Linked DNA regions of Homo sapiens: region 1 is linked to region 2. The links come from fine-mapping of genetic effects on gene expression. A gene starts in region 2. The other region holds a variant in brackets. All regions are shown on one strand. Distances are from middle to middle.

What was found.
Region 1: its variant is fine-mapped to the expression of ASB3 in whole blood (TOPMed, PIP above 0.99). The same link has a PIP of 0.9 or more in monocytes and non-classical monocytes.

What each region holds. Positions count from the first base shown.
Region 1 is chr2:53,755,336-53,760,714 of GRCh38, reverse strand. The region is part of intron 2 of ASB3 (ankyrin repeat and SOCS box containing 3); the gene reads left to right. The region is part of intron 2 of GPR75-ASB3 (GPR75-ASB3 readthrough); the gene reads left to right. Among named protein-coding and RNA genes, the nearest start is that of CHAC2, 9.8 kb to the left of the region's middle. The variant T/C (reference allele first, on the strand shown) is at 3,029.
Region 2 is chr2:53,784,107-53,789,428 of GRCh38, reverse strand. ASB3 (ankyrin repeat and SOCS box containing 3) reads left to right here and starts at 2,476. Exons shown (of 10, transcript NM_016115.5): 1 at 2,476-2,608. The region is part of intron 1 of GPR75-ASB3 (GPR75-ASB3 readthrough); the gene reads left to right. It overlaps ERLEC1 (endoplasmic reticulum lectin 1), which reads right to left and starts at 2,385. Exons shown (of 14, transcript NM_015701.5): 1 at 2,057-2,385. The coding sequence starts at 2,218. RefSeq lists enhancers at 2,393-2,812, 2,328-2,986.

The DNA.
Region 1 (5,379 bases), 29 kb after region 2:
TAGTAAATAATGATTTGGCCATCTGATGGGTGCTATCAATGCCTAAGTGAAAGGTCTAGTGAAGGGTTTTAAGTAATTTCCATTGGTTAGCTGCAGGCAAAAGTATTTTTCCTTCTTCAGTGGCTAGCCATCCTGAGGGGAAGAAGCTATGTACTCTTGAGGTTCCCCATTCTATTTCTTCTGCTGAGTACTGGGCCTTGGTTTCCTGGAGGGGATTACCCCATACTAGGGGTCCTTCTGTAAGCATTTCTAATGGAGGGTCCTACCTTGCAACTCTTTTGGCTTCAATATCTGCTTGGCGGTTCCCTTCTACTTCTTTTCTTTTCTTTCTGGTGACCCTGGCAGTGTAAAACTGCCACCTCTTTAGGTTTCTGTAGAGCCAAAAATAATCTCCTAATGTCTTCCTGATGTTTGATAGGTATTCCCTCGGAAGTTAGGAATTCCCTTTCTCTCCATATTGTTGCATGGGCATGGAGAGTTAGGTAAGCATACTTAGAGTCTTTATATATATTTACCCTTTTTCCTTCTCCTAATTCTAGTGTATAACGGCCCCTGCTTTTCCTAGGATGTCTCTCCCTAACAAAGGAGTGGGGCTTTCAGGCATAATTAGAAAGACATGTGAAAAGAGTAAAGTTCGCCAGTCACAACTTAGTGGCTGGGAGAAGTATATAGTGACTGCCTGTCCTAGGATCCCCTCAGATAGTGACAGATCTGGAGGACAGTTGTCCAGGACAGGAGAGTAAGACTGAGACAGCTGCGCCAGTGTCCAGGAGACAGTTAACCTCCTGGCCCTCAATGATCAAGCATACCCGGGGCTCTGTGAGGGTGATGGCGTGGGCTGGTGCTTGCCCCGGACACCCTCAGTCCTGCTGCTGTATCATCTGGTTAGTGGCTTCTGACTCAGAGGACCTTCGTCCCCTGGGGCAGTGGGCCTTCCAATGATTCCCTTGACATAAGGGGCATGGACGAGGGGGAGGCTTATTTCTATTCGGACAATCTTTTTTAAAGTGTCCTTGTAAACCATACTGGAAGCAATCCCTGTTAGGCATTCGATTTGCCCAGCCTTTCCCTGTTCCAGAGCCTTCAAAGTCCATTTGCCTGAAGACCATGACTAAAGTGGTGGCCTTTTTCTTATCCCGTTTATCCCGTTCTGCCTGCTCCTCCTGATCTTTATTATAAAAAACTGAGGTTGCCAAGTTCAGTAGGGTTTCTAAGTTTTGCTCCGGGCCTAAGGCGGACTTTTGAAGTTTTGTTCTAATGTCTGCAGCTGACTGAGTGATAAACTTATCCTTTAAGATTAGTTGGCCCTCAATAGAGTCATGCGACAGAGAGGTATGCTTTCTCAAAGCCTCCCTTAGTGTCTCCAGAAAGGCGGTAGGATTTTTCTTCCTTTTCCTGTGTTATAGTGGACATCATTGAATAATTCATAGTCTTCCTCCTAGTTTTCCTTAGCCTTCTTGCACGCAAGTTAGCAAATGTCTGCGGCACCAATCTCCATGTTCTGATTTTGCGTCCCAGTGAGGGTCTACACTGGGAACTGCCTCCTGGCCTGTGGAGAATTGTTCTCTTTCTTCTGTTGTCATCCTATCATTGACCTGACTGAGATACCAGAGATTGCCAAACTCTCTGGCTGCAGTTATGGTGGCACTTCTCTCTTTTGTGGTTAGCGTCTGATCTAGCAGCAACATTATATCTGTCTATGTCCGATAAAAGCATTGTTCTAACCCTTGTAAAACATCAATATAGCCATCAGGGTTATCTGATAATTTACCTAGGTCTATTTTAATTTGCTTCAAGTCTGACAGGGAAAAAGGTACATACACTCTGGGCCGAATTCTCCAGAATATATCTTAGGGGCGTTTTTGCCTTGTGGGGAACATGTCCCATCTGAAAAAAGAACATAGGGATGCCAGCACCTCTAGTCATTTTCCAATGAGCATTATCCCAGAGGACTAGAGCGTCCTCTGTGGTCCTAGTGCTTATTCCTTTCCAGGGTGTACAACTACCCATGGACCTCTGCTTATCGGATTAGTTACACTCACCAATGTAGCAGTCCTGCACCCCTTTTCCCACCTTTCTTGACCACAAAGAAAGGGGTCCGGGCTGCTGGATTCTAGTGGTCCTTTACCAGCATGCCCAATATTGCCTTTGCGCTCAAGGGTGAGTTCTAGAGCTGGGCTGGGTTCCTGAGTATTTTATAACAACCCAGCTGCCCCATCAAGATGCGTTCCCATAAACAACAGTTCTTATGCAAATTCTTTTCAGAGAGGGTGTAGGTAACCTTTTGAGTTAGGATTGAGGTAGAGTTTTTGCCCACTAGGGCCTTTGTCCTTTTCCCTTGTAGGAATACGCCCTAATTATCAATCTTAAACTTTTTGTTGCCCCGGATTAAGTCCTTGCCGGTATGAAATTTGAGAGATGGATCCTGTTTATCCCATGTGCCTTTTTCCGTGGGTTACTGGGTTAAGGATTTTTGATAGGAAGGCTATGTGTTGTCAGTGGTCTCAGTGTTTTCAGGCTACGCCCTTGTTTACACTGACAACAAGGTAGTATTGGAGTGTTATAGGGTCACAGAGAAGACCTTCAGTTATCAATTATAGGTTTTAAATTTACCCTGGCTTTTAAAGGAATAGGGTGCACTGTTTTTTCTTTACTACTTCTATCTCTCTTTTTCTCTCTCTCCCTCTCTTTTCTCTCTCTCTCTGTCTCTTCTCTCCTTGAGTTACTTAATTCGCTTTCATCCTGATCTATTATGTTGTCATAGACCCAGTTCCAGTTGTTAAAGTACTGGGTCATGAGTTTCAAGGCCCTGGCCAAGGAGCCAAGGCTTGGAGATTGTATTGCAGAGGGATAAGCTGGGTAAAAATCAGGGGAGGAGAGCATCTTACATGATGAGAGAGCAATCCTCCTAGCCATTTACAAACTTGGGGCCCTGGCAAGGGTGGTGGGGAATGGGTCCCACATAACTGCCCATGTTGAGAGCTGTATATCTAAACTGGGACACCAGGGACAAGATTCCCTGGGTTCA[T/C]AGCCTAGGTACCTAAGGACACAGCATAGAACTTCCTTAGATCCCTTTGGAGATACAACTTGCTCTAATACTTGGGAGAGGAAATGAAGTCTGAACCATTAGTACCTAGGAGGCAGGGATCGGAGGAAGTAGATTCAGAAGTAAGGAGAATTTTGGGCTACACTTTCAAGAAAGTCATGGTCGGGACCCAGGAGGTATGGGTCAGAAGGAAAGGTAGGGGTGCATGCACGGGCGACTGTTGAGTAGAGACTTCGGCTGCGCCATGATCTCAACCAGCTAACGCCGGGAGTTCGGGACGACAGCTTTCTGCCTCTAGTCGGCCCTCGGCCTCCCCAGGAAAATTGAAAGCAGAAGCTGGTTCCAGGCAGACCAACGCTCCCAACCCAGAAGGGTTGGACGTTGTTAGAAAGCCCTTTCCCAGATAGCCTCACACCTGAGTCTTAAGTCTGGCAGCCACACTAATTATTTTTAACTGGCTGACAGGTGCCCGGTATTTTCCTCCAATTCTAAGGAAGGATAGGACAGAATAGCAAGTGAAAGTGGTCCAATATTACTCACCGCTTTTGAGGTCCCTTTGTGGTCACCAAAATGTTACTGGGGGGTCCTTGTTCTTAGAGCTCCTAAGATGGTGGTAGGCTGCTTCCAAGATGGTGGCAAGCCTCTTGTTCTCTGACCTCGGGTTCTTGACCTCACGGATTCCAAGGAATGGAATCTTGGGTCATGCGGTGAGTGTTACAGCTCTGTTCAGCTCGATTAGGATGAACCCCAGGCACTTAGCCTGTGCAGGAACAATGGTGAGCCTCTAGCCCGACTGGGAGTGGCAATGGGCGCCGCCTCGCTGGATCAGAAGTGCAGTGGACACCCTGCCAGATCGGAGGGGTAGAAGTCAACAGCGGGTCTGCGACGACGGTGATCAGCAGTGGTGGACGGTGAGTGAAAGCTCAGTTTGAACTGGAACAAACACGGACCAGAGAGTGTGCAGTTGCAAGATTTAATAGAGTGAAAACAGAGCTCCCATACAATGGGAGGGGACCCAAAGGGGGTTCCCTGCCTTTTTTTTCTTTTAGGTCCTTGAAGGATTACATGATGCCTGCCCACATTGGTGAGGGCAAGTCTTGTTTATTCAGTCTGCTGATTCAAATGGTAATGTCTTCCTGAAACATCTTCATGGATATACCCAGAAATGTTTTAGCAGCTATCTGGGCATCCCTTAACCCAGTCAAGTTGACATGTAAAATTAACCATCACCATGCCAAGTTAAAATATTTATAGATACTGCTAAATTGTATGCTATGTTAATCAGGATTCTTTCAGTACTGAGTGAAAGAAACCTAGTTCAAACTAGCTTAAGCAAAGAAAGGGAATATAGTAGCTCAAGTAAATGTAAATCTGAGTGATGGGTCTCTTCAGAGACTGCTGGATTCTACTATTAGAATGATGTCGTTAGACAGGCAGGATTTCCCTTTGGAAGTTCTAGACTTACCTTATTTTTATTTTTTTAATTAAAAAAATTTTTTTAAAGAGATGGGGTCTTACTCTGTTGCTCAAGCTGGAGTACAGTGGTGTGATCATGGCTCATTGCAGCCTCCAACTCTTGGGCTCAAGTGATCCTCCCATCTCAGTCTCTGGAATAACTGGGACCGCAGACATATGCCATCACATCAGGCTAATTTTTTTATTTTCTATATTTTGTAGAGGTGGGGGGGGGGTCTTACTATTTTGTCCAGGTTGGTCTCAAAACTCCTGGCCTCAAGTGATACTCCTTCCTTGGCCTCCCAAAGTGCTGGGATTACAGGCATGAGCCACTGCATTAGGCCTTGCCTTATCTTTAAAGAGCTCTTTATGTATTCTGGATATTAATCCTTCGGTGTTATATGTGTTTCGGGTATTTTCTCGTCACTTTTCTTAACAGTGTCTACTTTCTTTGTAATGCCTTTCAACCTCTTCCTCTTCACTGACTTCTTCCATGCATCTTGTGTGCATTATGAAGTCTCTGCTGAGGGTTGTCTGAGAAGTTTGCACATAATACAATTCCTTGCATTGTGGAAATTATTTTATATATAACCTTTTCTTATAATACCTAAATAAAACATAGTAAGATGATATAAATTGTGTAAATGGTGTGGCGATATAATCTTGACATTTATTACACTTGTGATTGGCACATAGTAAATTTGTCATCAAATTCTGGCTCAGCTGTTGAGAAATATTCTGGTCTTAATACTTAACCTATCTCCTCTACTGAAAACCTTGTGGTTTGACTTTCCCTGTTAGAGTTTGCAGAAAACAAAAAGAACGGTCTATCACCCATTACTACCACTTTTATAAGAAGTAATAGACAAGTTTATTAT
Region 2 (5,322 bases):
CTAAAAAAAGAATTTTTTTTTTTTTTTTTTTTTTTGAGACAGAGTCTCACTCTGTCACCCAGGCTGGAGTGCAGTGGTGCAATCTTGGCTCAGTGCAACCTCCACCTCCCGGGTTTAAGCGATTCTCCTGCCTCGGCCTCCCAAGTAGCTGGGAGCACTGGTGTGCACCACCACGCCCAGCTAATTTTTGTGTTTTTAGTAGAGATGGGGTTTCACCACGTTGGTCAGGCTTGTCTTGAATTCCTGACCTCATAATCCGCCTGCCTCTGCCTCCCAAAGTGCTGGGATTACAGATGTGAGCCGCCGCACATGGCCAAAGCATTTTTTTTTTGAAATAAAATTGTTAGATACGTGAAAAGTTGGTGTAGCAAATGCTAAGACTGAAAGAAAATGGAATGACAATTTGGTAGTGACCTCTAAAAATGCTAGTTTTAGTCGCTCGCTTATAGTAAGTTTTCAGGGCTGCATATCAGCAAGTTTTTTTAAATTAAAAAAAACACAGGTGCCAAGAGTAAAAAATTTTAATGACATAATTCTTCAAACATCTGCCATATTCACTCCAAGTGTGCTCTTTGGATACAACAACAGGTATTAAAGTATTCTCTTCCAAGCCTGCTAAAGTTATATCTGATTCATAACAAAATTTTACATAGGTATTTCAATGTATCAATATTTTGTGGCATTAATACAAAGAGAAATTTGACGTCCCAGAAAAATATTTACCTAGATAAATTCAGAACATTTGGTTCACACATGTAATCCCAGTATTCTGGGAGGCTCAGGCACGAGGATTGCTTGAGCCCAGGAGTTCGAGACCAGCCTAGGCAACATAGTGAGACCCTGCCTCTAGAAAAAAAAAAAAAAATTAGCCAGGAGTGGTGGGATTTCCCTATAGTCCCAGCTACTGGGAAGCTGAGGAGATCTCTTGAGCCCAGGAGGTCGAGGCTGCAGCCAGTGGTGACCGTACCACTGCACTTCAGAATGGGCAACAGACTGAGACCCTGTCTCAAAAAACAAACAAAAACAGAAAAACCCAAACCAAACCAAACCAAACCAAAAAACCCCTAACACTTGCAAATAGAAAGCTATGTGGTAATAACATCCATTAACTTGACACATCTTGTTTTGACATCATAGTGTCACTTACTGTTTCAATGAAATGGTAATGAAAGAATATAATAAAGTATTGCAAGTTGAATGCTTGAAGGTAATTGGAATAAAAAGTTTAAAAAAATTTTGCTTTTTCCGGGACTTCAATTTGAAGTAAATGAGTTAATTACTACATGGTAAGTGTCATAAGAGTACAATATTTATTAGCCTGCAGTAGGTACACGTGGACAGGAAGACTTTTCAGCGGTCCACTCCCCCAAGAGGGAATTTTCATTTCCGCGAGGTTACAAATGTTCTTCACTACAGGAAAACTCAACATAGAAGCTCATGTTCTGGGGACTCAAATAACAGTCGTAATACATGAAAACTGTAAAGGATATTCTGCATAAAGGGTCGTTAACATCTCACAGGCCAAATAGCCCTCTCAGAAACAACTAGGAAAGGAAAAAGTTCCCTTGGAGCTGTGCGTTTGCGTATGTCCGTGTGTGTATACAACTGAGGGAGAACGAATACGAGAGAGGGAACTCGAGTCTGAAGTACTGTGGTGTGGGCAGGGTGACATGTAATACTGAAGGAAAGAAGTCTGCTGGTGAAGTAAGAGCCACAGTTAATTTTCCGAAAGGAAGATGAGTAAGTGCACCTGACGTTATTCTACGAAAGCTGCTTCTGCAGGGTGGGAATGTTGGGAAGCAAGGTCTAGTGCGACAGAATTGAAAAGGTGGAGAGCAGGTGATTGCTGGATCCCTAATGCTCAGCAAGGGGGACGCATCCACATAACGTGAGAACGAACGAATGAATGAACGCTGCATAAAAGCAGCTTTGGCTTGGGGAAGGTAAGAGTCTGCAGAGAAGGTCTTGGGGAGAAAAAGCAAAGAAAACCGAGGGAAGAGGCCGAACCCTTAGTGTCAGGAGGAGGGGTGGCTGCGGGGTTAGTGAGGGCACTGACCAGAGAGAACTCGGTGCCGGGCCAGTTGACTCGGAAAGGGATGTCATCGCTGAGTTGAGGAAGGGCTCGGCCGCCGCCGGACGCCTCCAGGAGGCCGCAGAGGACCAGTAACACCGGCCCGCCCGGGACCAGACTCCGTACGCCGCCGCCTCCTTCCTCCATCCTCCGCCGCCGCTTTCTCCAGCCACCGCCACAACCTCCTCTGCTCCAGGAGGAGAGGAGGAGGAGGAGGAGGTGGAGGAGGAGGCGGCGGGACTATAAAGCGCCCGGGTATCACCGGCCCAACCGCCGCCACGTCTCCTTCCGGAGAGCCCGGCAACGCCGCCTCCGCCCCCTTGAGCCTCCTGTCACCGTTTCCGGGGCAGACGACATATCAACATCCGGGGGTCGCGGAGCCGTCCGCCTACGGGGGCCGGGACGTCGCCTGCGCGTCTCTCGTTTTCGGACGGCTGCAGCATCGCGGTGGGGATCGAAAGCGGGGGCTTCTGGGACGCAGCTCTGGAGACGCGGCCTCGGACCAGCCATTTCGGTGTAGAAGTGGCAGCACGGCAGGTCGGTGAGTCTCGGAGGCGGCAGCCGCTTCCTGAAGCCATTCCCGCTGCTCTCCAGTGGGCAGGCAGAGGTTTGACCCACACGGAGTGATAGCGGGAAGAAGACAGTGTGAACCGTGCGGGTGCGGGTCCTTAGATGAGAAAATTCGAAGTAGCGATGAGATGTGAGAAATGGCGGTGTTCCTGACTGACCTGCCTTCTTGCAGCTTTTCTTCTTTTTCTCCGCATTTGGCATTTGTACACTTCATTTTTCCCGCTTGAGGCTTATCTCCATCTCTTCTGCTGTGGACCGTGGCCATCTCGTTACTTAACAGCTTCTGACTAACGCAGGGCAGTTTGTTCAGCGACTGCAACTCTGTGTTAGGGGAAACCTGGGGTGAGGTAGCCCGCCATCTCCCCGTAGGTGAATACCGCAAGCCTCCGAATTTGGCGTGGTGGGCGACTCTCGTGGAATGGGCAGCTAGACATCACAACCCTACATTTTTACCCTCCATCTCTAGATTGAAGTGTTGGGGTGTTGTTTTATCAAGGAAGCTGGTAAGGTTCCTTATGTGAGGTTTAGCGCCAGATGAATGTGTGTGTTTATGAACTAAGTCACGTCTGACTGCATCCCCAAATTAGACAAAAAGTTTTGTTTTTCCCTCCCCCTCTTTAGAAAAAATGCCATTGTCTGTTTTGATCTCCAATATAATGGACATAGAGTGTTGGCTTTAGAGAAATTACCATTCCCTAAAGCTCGACAGTCTTGCTAGATCTGTTAAAGACTGGTCGCCCCCACTTCCTCAGATTTGAACCAAATCAAAAAGCAGGAAGGACAGTCCCATATTCTATCTTAAAAATTTTTTTTTAACATCAGGAATCCATAGTATCAAAGAAGATAACTTTCTTCAGAATTGTTATTCGCTAATTATATTCAGCACTTCTTATTAATGCTTAATGTGATCCAGACTCCTGGGATTTTTGTTGTTGTTGTTTGTTTTGAGACAAAGTCTCGCTCTGTCACCCAGGCTGGAGTGCAGAGGCATAATCTTGGCTCACTGCAACCTCCGCCTCTGGAGTTCAAGGGATTCTCCTTTTTCTCAGCCTTCCGAGTAGTTGGGATTACAGGCGCGCGCCGCTACACCCTAATTTTTGTATTTTTAGTAGAGGCAGGGTTTCACCACGTTGGCCAGGCTGGTCTCGAACTCCTGACCTCGGGTGATCCGCCCTCCTCGGCCTTCCAAAGTGCTGGGATTACAGGCCTGAGCCACTGTGCCTGGCCCCCCTGGGCTTGGTAAAATGCCAAATAAATGGGTTTCTGTCTTTGGTCACACAGTCTAGGCAGGGAGATTGTACAAACAAATAATTGCAAACTATTATAGTAGTAATAGTCAATTTTTTTTTTTTTTAGCATTTATTCTGTGCTAAGCACTAGTCTTAAGTCATGAAGGAAAAGAGATGTATTTGACGGAATAAAAATGAAAACTGTCTGTGAGGTCCTGTTTTAGCATTTAGGGCTATAGTGATTGAATCTGTGTTCAATAGAGCTGATGTTCAAGTAAGAGGGGAACTTAAATAAGTAAAATAATTTCTAGTATTGGTAAGTGCTGCAAAGAAACTAAGGTTATGTGAAAGACAATACCTGTAGGATGTGTTGCTTTTAGTACGTAAGTCAGAGGAGACTTCTGTGAGGAAGTGACATTTGAATTGTGACTTGAATGATGAAAAGAAGGGAGCCAGACAAATTTCTAGGCAGAGGCCCTGAGGCAGGAATGAGCTTGATGTGTTGGAGTGATAGAAAGAAGGCCAGTGTGGCTGGAGTGTAAGAGGAAAGTGGTAGAAGAAGTTTGAGAAGCAGAAAGAGGCCAGGGAGACAGCTCTGTAGGCAGGAGAGTGGACAGGACCCGATGTACATTTGTGAAGATCATTGTGGCTGCTGTGTGGAAAATTGATTGTAGGGGGTGTTGTGGGTTGAATTGTGTTCCCCAAAAAGACATGTTTAAGTCCTATCCCCTAGAACCTGTGAGTGTGAACTACTTGGGATAGGGTCTTTGCAAATATAATTCAAGTAAGGATGAGGTCATACTGAATCAAAGGGGGCCCTAATCTGGTGACTGGTATCTTTATAAGAAGAGGGAAATTTGGATACACATGGACACACAGGGAGAATGCCATGCCAGGAAGGAGGAGGCAGCAAGATTGCAGTATGTGTCTATAAGACAAGGAATGCTAAAGATTGCCAGTAATCACCACAAGCTAGGAAGAGGCAAGGAAGAATCCTTCTTTAGAGCTTTCAGAGAGAGAGAATAGCCCTGCTGACATCTTGATTTCTGACCTCTAGTTTCTAGAATTGTGAGACAATCAATTTATGCTGTCTAAGCTGCTCAGTTTGTGGTCATTTGTTACAGCAGCCTCAGGAAGGTAATAGAGGATGAAAACCAAAAAGTAGTTGAGACAAGTCTCAACCAGTTTAGAAGTTTATTTTGCCAAGGTTAAGGACGTGTCACAGACAGCCTCAGGAGGTCCTGACAGCATGTGCCCAAAGTGGTCGGGCTACACTTGGGTTTTACACATTTTAAGGAGCCACAGGACATCAATCAGTACAAGTCTTTTATGCTTTATTTATAGGTTGATTCTTAAACATTGAAAACTTATCAACTATTTACCATATTGTAATTATACAATCATCATTCGCTATAAAACTATTAAGTATGATTGCATCTGCAGAGAAAAAAT